Homo sapiens: one gene and its partners. The protein of the gene in region 1 interacts with the protein of each later gene in a biochemical or structural test. Each region holds a gene or a part of one and is shown in the gene's direction. Other genes may lie near its edges. The genes, in order: SCYL1, COPG1 and ARF3.

Region 1 (3,745 bases):
TCTCTATTAACCAGGGACATGATGCACTGTGCAAAGCCACAGGGACCTCTGCCCGAGAAAGCCTGGGTATTGTCTCCCCGACTGAGACAGCCTGATATGGCCTTGTGGGAAGGGAAAGACCTTACCATCCCCCAGCCCGACACCCGTAAAGGGTCTGTGCTGAGAATTAGTAAAAGAGGAAGATCTCTTTGCGGTTGAGATAAGAGGAAGGCCTCTGTTTCCCGTATGTCCCTGGGAATGGAATGTCTTGGTGTAAAGCCCACCAGTCATTCTATTCTGAGATAGGAGAAAACTGCCCTATGGCTGGAGGTGAGATATGCTAGCGGTGATACTGCTCTGTTACTCTTTGCTACACTGAGATGTTTGGGTAAAGAGAAACATAAATCCAGCCTACGTGCACATCCGGGCACAGTACCTTCCCTTGAACTTATTTATGATGCAGATTCCTTTACTCACATGTTTTCCTGCTGACCTTCTTCCCACCATCACCCTGTTCTGCCGCAGTCCCCTTGCAGAGATAGTGAAAATAGTAATCAGTAAATACTGAGGGAACTGAGAGACCAGCGCCGGTGCAGGTCCTCGTATACTGAGTGTGCCGGTCCCCTGGGCCCACTGTTCTTTCTCTATACTTTGTGTCTTATTTCTTTTCTCAGTCTCTTGTCTCCACCTGACGAGAAATACCCACAGGTGTGGAGGGGCAGGCCCCCTTCAAACATGTTGGTCAGGCTGACCTGGAACTCCTGACCTCAGGTGATCCTCCAGCCTCGGCCTCCCAAAGTGCTGAGATTACAAGCGTGAACCACTGTGCCTGGCCCTCACCCCAGTTTATAGATGGGGGACCTAACGCACCCAAAGGGAACTGTGTGAGTTCTCACATCCAATGAGGGGCTGAACCGTGATTGAAACCCAGCACCGTCTCACTGTGGCATCTCTGCCCTTGAGTTATCTCCCAAAGGCATCCCAACCAGACTTTTCATAACCAGTCCCAGAATCTCACCAGTGCTCCATAGCTGTGGTTGAGGCACTGTCCCCAAGCCTGGGTCCTGAGACCCTACCAGCAGAAGAACCACTGCCTGTCCAGCCCCTCCTACACAGCTCAGGGGCTGGATCCCCACCAGTGTGATGTGCTGATTGAGCTAACACCACTCCATGGCTGTCTACACAGGCACTGAGAGATGCAATCCGTTGGCTTGAGAGCCGGGCAGCTGAGCCCAGGAGAGCAGGGTCCCCTCCCAGCCCTTTGGCCTCTTCCAGACCTGCCCAGTTGCTCCTTCTCCCTCCCTCCTTTCCTGGGGTCACTTCTTCTTCCCTCCTCAGTCTCTCCTTCCTCCATTCCCTGGGTGCCCGCCCCTGCCCCGGGGTTCTGGACCTCCTTGGAACCTTGGATTCACTCTCTGCCTCTCACCCACGCTCTTTCTCTGGGGCGTCTCCTCGTGCTTCTCTCATGGTCACTTCACCAGGACCGACTCCTCCCCGGAGCCTGGAGGCACCCACTTGCTGGTGGGAGAGAGTGTCTGGCGTGGGGCCAGTCTCCCTCTCTGGGTCTCTGCCTCACTCCTCACTGCACCCTCTCATGCCTGTCAGTCTTTCTACCTCTCCCCCTTTTTGCCTCGGTTTCCCCATCCCTCTGTCCCTTCTTAAGCTCTCATCCTTACAGTACGCTAGAAGGCAGGCTCTATTATCCTTTAGGATTTAGGCCTCTTTAGATAAAAGGGCTCACAGGCTTGGAGGGTTTTAAGTGACTTACCCGGCGGCGGAGTACTGATCTTAGTACCGCCCGCCGCCCCGGACTGCCCCGCCCCTCCCTAGCCCCCCCATCCCCGCCCCTCCCTAGCCCCCCCATCCCCGCCCCTCCCTAGCCCCCCCATCCCCGCCCCTCTCCCGCCCCTCCCTTGTCCCCGCCCCTTCCCGCCCCAACTCAGGTTCTGCCCCACCCCGCCCCAATTCACGTCCTGCTCCGCCCCGACGTAGGCCCCGCCCTGGCCCCCGGGCCCCGCCCCCGTCTGACGCAGGCCCCGCCCCCTCTCCGCCCCGCCCCGGCTCGGGCGGCCGGAGGACCCGGAGCTAAGGCGCCCGAACCCGCGGCGGCGGTGGGGACGATGTGGTTCTTTGCCCGGGACCCGGTCCGGGACTTTCCGTTCGAGCTCATCCCGGAGCCCCCAGAGGGCGGCCTGCCCGGGCCCTGGGCCCTGCACCGCGGCCGCAAGAAGGTGAGTGCGGCCGAGCTCCGTAGGCCGCGGTCGACCTGGGCCTTGCCTATTCCGCGCCGCCGACCCCGTCGCGTTGCGCCCGGCCTGACGTGGCGGCGGAACCAAGGGGTAGCAGGCCGGGGAGGGGGCGGGCAGTGCCTACGTGGCGGGCGGAGGGACCGAGGGACCGACAGGCGGACAGGGCCGGGGTCACGTGGGCCCGGCGAAGTGTCCCTAAGGCTGACCTGGGGAGAGACCTGGCTGCGGGCCCTTGTCTTCCGGCCACACAACAGCTCTGGGACCATCTCAGGCCCCGCTGCCCTCCCCTAGGCCACAGGCAGCCCCGTGTCCATCTTCGTCTATGATGTGAAGCCTGGCGCGGAAGAGCAGACCCAGGTGGCCAAAGCTGCCTTCAAGCGCTTCAAAACTCTACGGCACCCCAACATCCTGGCTTACATCGATGGACTGGAGGTACCTGCTGCCTTGCCTGCCCGTCTCTGCCCCTCACGATGTCCTGGTTACCCACTCCTGTCTCCCCTCCTGCCCTGTTTCCACCCTATGTGCCCCAGCACCCCCAGATTTGGTTTCCTCTTCCCCATCTCTCCCAACTTCAAGTCGCTTATCTCTCCTTCCTCTCTGCCCCTCCGCCCTTGATAACCCTGTGTCCCCTTCCCCAGACAGAAAAATGCCTCCACGTCGTGACAGAGGCTGTGACCCCGTTGGGAATATACCTCAAGGCGAGAGTGGAGGCTGGTGGCCTGAAGGAGCTGGAGATCTCCTGGGGGCTACACCAGATCGTGGTGAGGTGGGGGGCAGTGGTGATGAGAGCAGGGATGGGGGGTTGCAGGTGCTGGGGCGTGATGGCTCCTTTTGCCCCCAGAAAGCCCTCAGCTTCCTGGTCAACGACTGCAGCCTCATCCACAACAATGTCTGCATGGCCGCCGTGTTCGTGGACCGAGCTGGCGAGTGGAAGCTTGGGGGCCTGGACTACATGTATTCGGCCCAGGGCAACGGTGGGGGACCTCCCCGCAAGGGGATCCCCGAGCTTGAGCAGTATGACCCCCCGGAGTTGGCTGACAGCAGTGGCAGAGTGGTCAGAGAGAAGTGGTGGGTGACTGGGGGCAGCGCGCCCCAACCTGCCCTGTCCTGGAGGCCCCTGCAGCCTCAGGACTCCTAGACTAGTTGGCACTCCCCTGTTCCCTGCTGCCTGGCTGGGGAGGGAATCAGTGTCCCAGGAGTGAGGGACACTCCTCTGCCCCCAGGGTCCTCAGGGCGGTAGGGCGGGATGGACACAGCATTCGGGGTTGGGTGATTCTGAACTTGAAAGCTCTGTGACCTGGACAGATGTGCCTAGTTCTCTGAGGCTTGGTTTTTTTAATCTGTTAAGTGAGGCTAATGAAACCTGCCTCTTGGGACTGATGGCTCAGCTGAGGGACATAGCCAGGCCCTGGCATGCAGTGGGTGCCTGGTGCCCAAGGCAGGCTGGAGGCCTGTGCAGGTGGTTGGTGGGGCCCTAAGAGCTCTGGGTCACTGCCACAGGTCAGCAGACATGTGGC
Region 2 (3,745 bases), on another chromosome or scaffold:
GCTCACTGCAGCCTTGACCTCCCAGGCTTAAGCAATCCTCCCATCTCAGACTCCTGGAGTAGCTGAGACAAGATAAAAATCAGTTTAGTCCTCAGATGTACCATAACTTCCTTAATCATCCCTTTATTGATAGACATTTAGGGTGTTTACAATTATTTTGCTGCAAACTGCTGCAGCAGGCAACTTCATTTTCTTTTTTCTTTTTTTTGAGACAGTTTCGCTTTTGTTGCCCAGACTCCAGGCTGGAGTGCAACGGCGTGATCTCAGCTCACTGCAGCCTCCGCCTCCCAGGTTCAAACGATTCTCCTGCCTCAGCCTCCCGAGTAGCTGGGATTACAGGTATGCACCACCACGCCAGGCTAATTTTTTTTTTTTTTGTATTTAGTAGAGATGGGGTTTCACCATGTTGGTCAGGCTGCTCTCAAACTCCTGACCTCAGGTGATCCACCTGCCTCAGCCTTCCAAAGTGCTGGGATTACAGGCTTGAGACACTGCGCCCGGCCTCATTTTCTTCTTTTGAACAATTTCCTCCTGATTAGGGGTGGGGTTACCGATCAGACATTTTGAACATCTTTCTGACTCTTGACAATTTTGCATGTCACAAGATCTGTTGTCCTTGGCCCTAGCCTCTGCAAAGCCAGACCCTAAGGGCTGGCCCCTCTGACATCTCCCTTCCTCCAGCTTTGCGGTCACCCTTTTCACCTGGGGCCTCTGCCTCAGCCTCCTGCCTCTCCTCTCCACAGCCCACTCCTTCTCCTGCCCACAGGCCTGCGGGCTTCCCCTCCCCAGGCAAGCTGGGGCCGTGTCGCAGCGCTTGGCCATCACGACTTTGCCATTGCCAATGCAATCTGGCTCACTGGCATGCACTGTGCTTACCTTAGCCTCAGGGTGTCCTGCATAGGTCCCCAGGAAGATAAACCCTGGGTGATGTGTCATTTTCCCCTTTCCGTTCCTTCCCACGCCCTTCCCCCCACCTCCCCGCGTAGGCAGCGCATCTAGTTGGCACTCCATAAATATCCAAAGTATTTACAAAATAACGTAGAAGTTCTATGCTGTTTAGTTAGATCTCTTAAGGTTGATAATGTACAAGGCAATTTGCATCAGGAGCAGACGAGATAGGGCCCGGCAGATATAAATTAAAAATGCAATTGCACGCATTCATTCAACGAGAACTCACTGAGCAACTACTATGTGCCAACATTATCCACTGCAGTGAATAAAAGACAAACAAACAAGCAAATAACAAAAAAAAAAACAAAAGAGCAAGAAAGTGGCCGGGTGCAGTGGCTCACCGCTGTAATCCCAGCACTTTGGAAGGTCGAGAAAGGAGGATCGCTTGAGGCCACGAGTTCAAGACCAGACTGGGCAACATCATAGTGAGACCTCGTCTCTACAAAAATTAAAAAATTAGTCGGGGGTGGTGCGCCCAGCTCTACTCGGGAGGCTGAGGTGGGAGGATCGCTTGAGCCCAGGAACTGTAGGCTGCAGTGAGCCAGGATCGCACAACTGCACCACAGCCTGGGCAGCAGAACGAGAAATAAATAAACAAATAAAAGCCAGAAAGTAAAAATAAAGTGTTAGATGGCGATTCGAGCTGAGGAGGAAATCAGGCAGGGGAAAGAATCTGAAAGCGAGGAGTGAGTGGCTGGCAAGGCTCCTTCGGAAGGTGGCAATAACAGTCATAGACCGGTCACATCAATTGGGTGTTTACTGCGGGCCAGTGTGTGCCACCAACCTCACACCCGAAAGCCACAAAGACTCACGCCACAACGCAACGAGGCAGGGGCTCCTCCTCCTCCCTTGGTATACGGAAAGAAGCGTAGGGAGCAGAGTTGGGATGCTAGTCAGTACCCCCCTGCACCTAGCCCTTGCCCCTCCGTCTGGCTTTCCCCACTCCCGCTCCGGCGGAGCTAAGGTTAACATTAGACGAGGCTGTGGCTACCGGAAAGAGCGCAGGCGCAGAGCGCGGAATGCGCCTGCGCAGAGCGCTGGGCGACGTGGCCAGTCGGGGCCCGGAAGTGGTCCCTGTAGAACCACTGTGGCACCGCTACTCCGTGCCGCGCCCGTCGAGCATTGCGTTGCTGCATTGCGCCCCACCGACTCCACTATGTTGAAGAAATTCGACAAGAAGGATGAGGAGTCAGGTGAGGGGGCCAGGCCTGGGTCTGAGGGAGGCCGGACCCCCACCCGCCGAGCTTTCCTTCTGGTTCTCTGTCCTGACCCGGAGGCTGAGGCCCAGTGAGGGGCAGGGGCTTGTGCCAGGGTCCACAGCTAGTCAGTGGCAGGCCTCGGAGAGCCCGAGCATGCGCGGCTGTCTCACTCTTGTAAGCTCGGACTGCAATTTTCTGGGTGACCTTGGGCGCGACAAACACCCCCCCCCCCAGGCCTCAATTTACCCATCTGTCAAAGGAGGGGACCATGCCGAATGTTCTCTTGTTACTTTCTTCGTCCAACCTCTTGGGATTCGCTGGGGCTACGTTGGTGCTGGCCAAACTGGGGTGTAACCTGCGGAGCCAGCGTCCTGTGACTGGGAACTCTGACCCCATCATTCATTTATTCAGCAAAGTATATTGAGCAGTTACTGTATGCCAGGTACTGTACGGTGTCCTGGATACTGCAACAGAGCAAGTGGGACACTCAGTGCCTGAGCTAGGAATATTAGAATGGTTGCACCCACGATGGAGGAGGCAGACATCAACCAGATAATCACACGTGTAATTATTTGCAAATGTGTCATCTGCTATGAAGGAACTAGTTACAACGAGATGGTGGTCCCTGGCACATAGGGACTTAGTTAATTACAAGTTATATAAATGAACACAAGACATGGCACCATGAGAAGCACAGGACTGTACCAGGGCTGCTGGGAGATTGTGAGTGGTTTGGGGTAGAGTGGAGCCCACCTGCTTGCAGGAGACTAGTAGGATCCCTAGACAGATTGTAGAGGCTTGATTGCCATTCCTGAGGAGTTTGAACTTTACTAGATTTCCTAGGAAGGGACATCTTCCCTTTACCTATGTCTGGGAGAGTTTTGAAGTTCAGAGTCACAACCTACCTTCTCCATTGTCCTTGACCGTAGGTGGAGGCTCCAACCCATTCCAGCACCTTGAGAAGAGTGCGGTACTCCAGGAGGCAAGTGACATTTGCTCCCCTCTAGCTTCCATCATAAATATTCACCACCAATGCAACTGAAATACCAACACATTCAAAGTGTTGTTTTAAAGAGCAACACGGGAGAAAACTTGTGCCTGGAAGTTTTCTGGAAGACAGGAAAACTTTGTTTCTGGAGAGAGTTAGTTATGCTTACTTCTTTTTTTTTTTTTTTTTTTTTTTTTTTCTGAGACAGAGTCTTGCTCTGTCGCTCAGGCTGGAGTGCAGTGGCGTGATCTCGGCTCACTGCAAGCTCCGCCTTCCAGGTTCACGCCATTCTCCTGCCTCAGCCTCCCAAGTAGCTGGGACTACAGACGCCCGCCACCACACCCGGCTAATTTTTTGTATTTTTAGTAGAGACGGGGTTTCACCGCGTTAGCCAGGACGGTCTTGATCTCCTGACCTCGTGATCCACCCGCCTCGGCCTCCCAAAGTGCTGGGATTACAGGCTTGAGCCACCGCGCCTGGCCTCTCTATTTAAACATTTAAAAAATTTCTCTATTTAAAGTTAATTCCAAAGCTAAGGAAACTGGTTTAAAACTATCACCTAAGCTAGACTGTGGCCATTATGCAGGTAGAGATTTTGCATGACTTG
Region 3 (3,745 bases), on another chromosome or scaffold:
GTGCCCAGGACAGATATAATTCCTTGTTATAAACAGGTTCCTTGTCATCCATCTCATCCCTTACCATCTTAAATTAAGGTCCCCTTAGCTTGACATTCTAGGGTCATGTTATCAGGTTAACATAAGAGAGAGAACAGACTGGGTTAAGGGACTGTAAGTGCATACACCAGGGATTGATGAGGACAAGGAGATCGACATATATGGCACCTACCAGCTTTTTTTTTTTTTTTCTTTGAGACAAAGTCTTACTCTGTCGCCCAGGCTGGAGTGCAGTGGTACGATCTTGGCTCACTGCAACTTCCGCCTCCCAGGTTCAAGCGATTCTCTGGCCTCAGTTCAAGTAGCTGGGATTACAGGTATGTGCCACCATGCCCGGCTAATTTTTGTATTTTCTGGTAGAGACAGGGTTTCACCATATTGGCCAGGATGGTCTCAAACTCCTGACCTTAAGTGATCTGCCCACTTCAGCCTGCCAAAGTGCTGGGATTACAAGTGTGAACACAGGGCCTGGCCCCAGCTTAGTTCTTCTTGGAAGCAAGGAAACAAACAAACAAAATCAACCAAGGCAATAAATTCATAAGAGCAACAATTTGGGCTCAAGCCTTAGGGAAGAGCCATGTGTTCATTCCCTTATACTGCTGTAAATGAGGAGAGAGGGCACTTAGAGAACCTTCTATTGGCCGGGCGCGGTGGCTCACGCCTGTAATCCCAGCTACTCAGGAGGCTGAGGCAGGAGAATCGCTTGAACCCGGGAGGCAGAGGTTGCAGTGAGCCAAGATGGTGCCATTGCACTCCAGCCTGGGCGACAGAGTGAGACTCTTGTCTCAAAAAAAAAAAAAAAAAAAGGAACCTTCTGTTCTTAGCATTACTAGTGCCCTTCTATCACAGCTATTTTTGTTTCAAGGCAGTTCTGCATGTCTAGACCAGGTGCAAAACGGAGTGTGAGGGAAGTAGGAGTGGGTAGGAAGCAAGAAATATGGGTGCAAAGTCCTTCACCTTTCCTTGGGATACTAAAATCCCTACTCATCTAGGCACACTTCCTCAAACCACACTTCTGAATATTAGGTTTCCACTCTCCGTCTTTCAAGTTCCAACTTAACTGGCTCAGAGTCCAGCTGTTTTCCTTTAGCCTCTTAAGTTCATCACTCTCCTTCCTCTTCCTTATGGGAAAGGATCTCTTGATTCAGACCCCACAGTAATCTAGTCTCAGGAATAGTGAGCAACAACAATGGTGCGGTGAGGGCTTTCAGGGGATGGCAGCTAGCCCAGATTAAGAAATAAAGATGAAGTCTGGCTGGGTAAGGCATGCCACAGCAACGACTGTTCACCCATATCCCGATGCTGGCTTTGCCCAAGGAGCCCCTGGGCCCCGCAGCCCAGCCCGTCTCCTACGCAGCCAACTTGCCGCCTCAGTCCTTAAATTCCAGGCACAACCCTGGAGCTTGGGATTGTCACCTCAGTCCTCACTGTCTCATCCCCATTCACGGCTCCCGCCTCCGCCGCCCACAGCCCCCACACCTGCCCCCGCCCTGACTCCAGCTCCAGCGCCCGGCCGCCGGTGCTGCAGCCGCTGCCATGGTGATGGGTCTCGCGAGAACTGCCGCTAGCTACCGCGCAGCTATCGCGCGATCGGGGAGGTGGGAAGTATCCCGGGCTGGGGGTGGGGGTACGCCGCACAGCTCCAGTCGCCGTCGCGGCTTCCGGTGCTAGGTGGAGGGAAGGAAGGAGGGAGCCGGGGAGTGGGCCAGGGCAGCAGCCGGGCTGAAGTCGGCTTGGGGAGCCAGAGGGAGCGGAGCGGAACCTGCGGGGCAGAGGCGGCGGCCGCAGCGGCGCAGCTGATAGCAGGAACAGGTGAGAGGCTGGGAAGGGAAGGCGGGTCCCGGTAGAGAAGAGGCTCGGTCAGGGTGAGGGCTGAGGAGATAGAGCGCCTCCCGGGCCCCGCCCGGCACTGCTTGGCGTGGGGCGGTGGGATTCTTCCCACCCGAGAGCTCAGAGAGGGTGCGTCGGGCCAGCTTCACGCCTGCCCCCGCATTTGAAGGACGCAGAGCTGGGGTGGGGGTGGGGGGCGCACACGGATTTGTCCTCCGCCTCGCTCAAGGGGGCGACCTGGGCTGCAGTTAGGTTGTCGCCTGCAGGAGGTGTGCTGTTGAGGGAGAGGAAAACCGTCCGAGGAGAGGTGATGAGGGGGCGGTGATGGCTGTTTGTATCTTTTCTGTTAAAGGGCTAGGGAATGCTGCTTTCTTCTACTCCCTCTCCCTCCCCCACCTTAGCAATAGGAGACGGGAGAGAAGCCTTGCTGTGGTTACACCCCCTCCCCCATCATAGGGCAGGGGTGCGTAGGGGGGTTGGGGGTTAGCCAACAGGGCAGGCTGCTGGGGCACCACATGGGCGCTATTGTGGTAGAGGTTGCGCTTTCGAGTCTAGGGAACCGCAGGTTGGGAAGAGGGCAGCAAGTGGGGAGAGGGTGGAGAGGAGGCAGGAGAAGGAGGAGGGGGATCTGATCTTCCTGGGAGAAGAGAGGTGGGGCCTTCCTCCCCAGGCGGAGCGGGGGCGGTCTCACAGGAGGAGGGAGCATCTTGTCACTGGCCCTCAGTTTGTGTCTTCCAATCCGCTTTCTTTCTTTAGGAAGTACCAGGATTCCCGGAACAGAAAATGGAGCCATTGCTTACGCGAATCGTTTGAGGGAAGGGGCGGGAGTTGGGGAGGTGGAGTTCCCTGTTAAAACGGGCCACTTGATTAGCAAAGTGGTAGCTGTTATTTTGGGGGAATTCCCGTCTTGATTGCATTAAGGCGGGTCTCCATCTTTCCAGGCCAGGAGGAATGTGGTGGTGGAGGTGGAGGATTGTGGTATGTGGTCAGGAGTGAGAAGAAATAGTAAGGCCGTCCCGGTGAGGGAGAAATGTAACCTAAAACCTGTCTCTGCTGTTGTTGGATTGGGTCACCCCTGGTCTATGGCATGAAAGTTTTATTGGGAGGAGATCTGCTGCAAGAGTCTGATTGCTTGGGTCAGTGCAACAGGACAGAATCTAGTCGCTGCATACCTCCTTCCCTGTCCTCAATCAGGTAGGTAGTAACAGTCTTTGCTGCTATTTTGTCTTGGGCTTGTTGTTGGGGTAGGTGTTTCCACTTGCCGTGACTTGGGACATGGGACAGTGTTATGGGACAGTGGATTATCATAGCCCATTGGACTTGAGTTTGAAAAACATGTCTGTAAAAGTTCATTCTAAGAAAGAAACTAATCCATTAAGGTTCAGCTTTTCACCGAATGAATGATTGACCTTGGATTCAGCCAGGAAAGGCTCCCATGTATCACATATTCACATGCGTCCTGTTTCCCAGCATAGAATTATTACCTTGCATAGTTAGAATTTTTATAGTTGTCTATCTTGCTTTTCCAAAGAGACTAGACGCTTTTCGACTGCAGGAACTGGATTTCGTCTCCTCTTCCACAATGCCCATGCAAACAGTAGGTACCCATGATGAATTTAGAATGTAAATAGATAGAACTCAACAAGCTTTCTAACTGTAGTTTAAGGAAAGGGCAAGAGATGGCTTGGCTGTCAGCAGAAGTGCCTGGAAATAGCTTAGCAAGGGTACAAAGACCCTTAGCCTTTGTAATTAAGAAGTTTTTGTGTCTCTGCCTTCCTAAGAGGCACAGAATAGGCATAGATAATGGAAACTTAAGACCCAAAAAGAAAAATATTACTAGAACACAGAGTCATTATCTGCAGTCCCAGATTTCCTG

What was found.
Region 2: the proteins of SCYL1 (region 1) and COPG1 form a complex in vitro, tested with the Homo sapiens proteins (one study listed by BioGRID).
Region 3: the proteins of SCYL1 (region 1) and ARF3 form a complex in vitro, tested with the Homo sapiens proteins (one study listed by BioGRID).

The regions. Positions count from the first base shown.
Region 1 is NC_000011.10:65,523,055-65,526,799, forward strand, and holds the start of SCYL1 (N-terminal kinase-like protein), read left to right. Parts: upstream 1-2,028; 5' UTR 2,029-2,099; coding exon 2,100-2,210; intron 2,211-2,499; exon of another isoform or gene 2,500-2,519; coding exon 2,520-2,660; intron 2,661-2,866; coding exon 2,867-2,989; coding exon of another isoform or gene 2,990-2,994; intron 2,995-3,069; coding exon 3,070-3,296; intron 3,297-3,728; coding exon 3,729-3,745. UniProt on the Homo sapiens protein: Regulates COPI-mediated retrograde protein traffic at the interface between the Golgi apparatus and the endoplasmic reticulum. Involved in the maintenance of the Golgi apparatus morphology.
Region 2 is NC_000003.12:129,247,603-129,251,347, forward strand, and holds the start of COPG1 (coatomer subunit gamma-1), read left to right. Parts: upstream 1-2,003; 5' UTR 2,004-2,107; coding exon 2,108-2,144; intron 2,145-3,079; coding exon 3,080-3,132; intron 3,133-3,745. UniProt on the Homo sapiens protein: The coatomer is a cytosolic protein complex that binds to dilysine motifs and reversibly associates with Golgi non-clathrin-coated vesicles, which further mediate biosynthetic protein transport from the ER, via the Golgi up to the trans Golgi network.
Region 3 is NC_000012.12:48,955,416-48,959,160, reverse strand, and holds the start of ARF3 (ADP-ribosylation factor 3), read left to right. Parts: upstream 1-1,673; 5' UTR 1,674-1,851; exon of another isoform or gene 1,852-3,063; intron 3,064-3,400; exon of another isoform or gene 3,401-3,466; intron 3,467-3,745.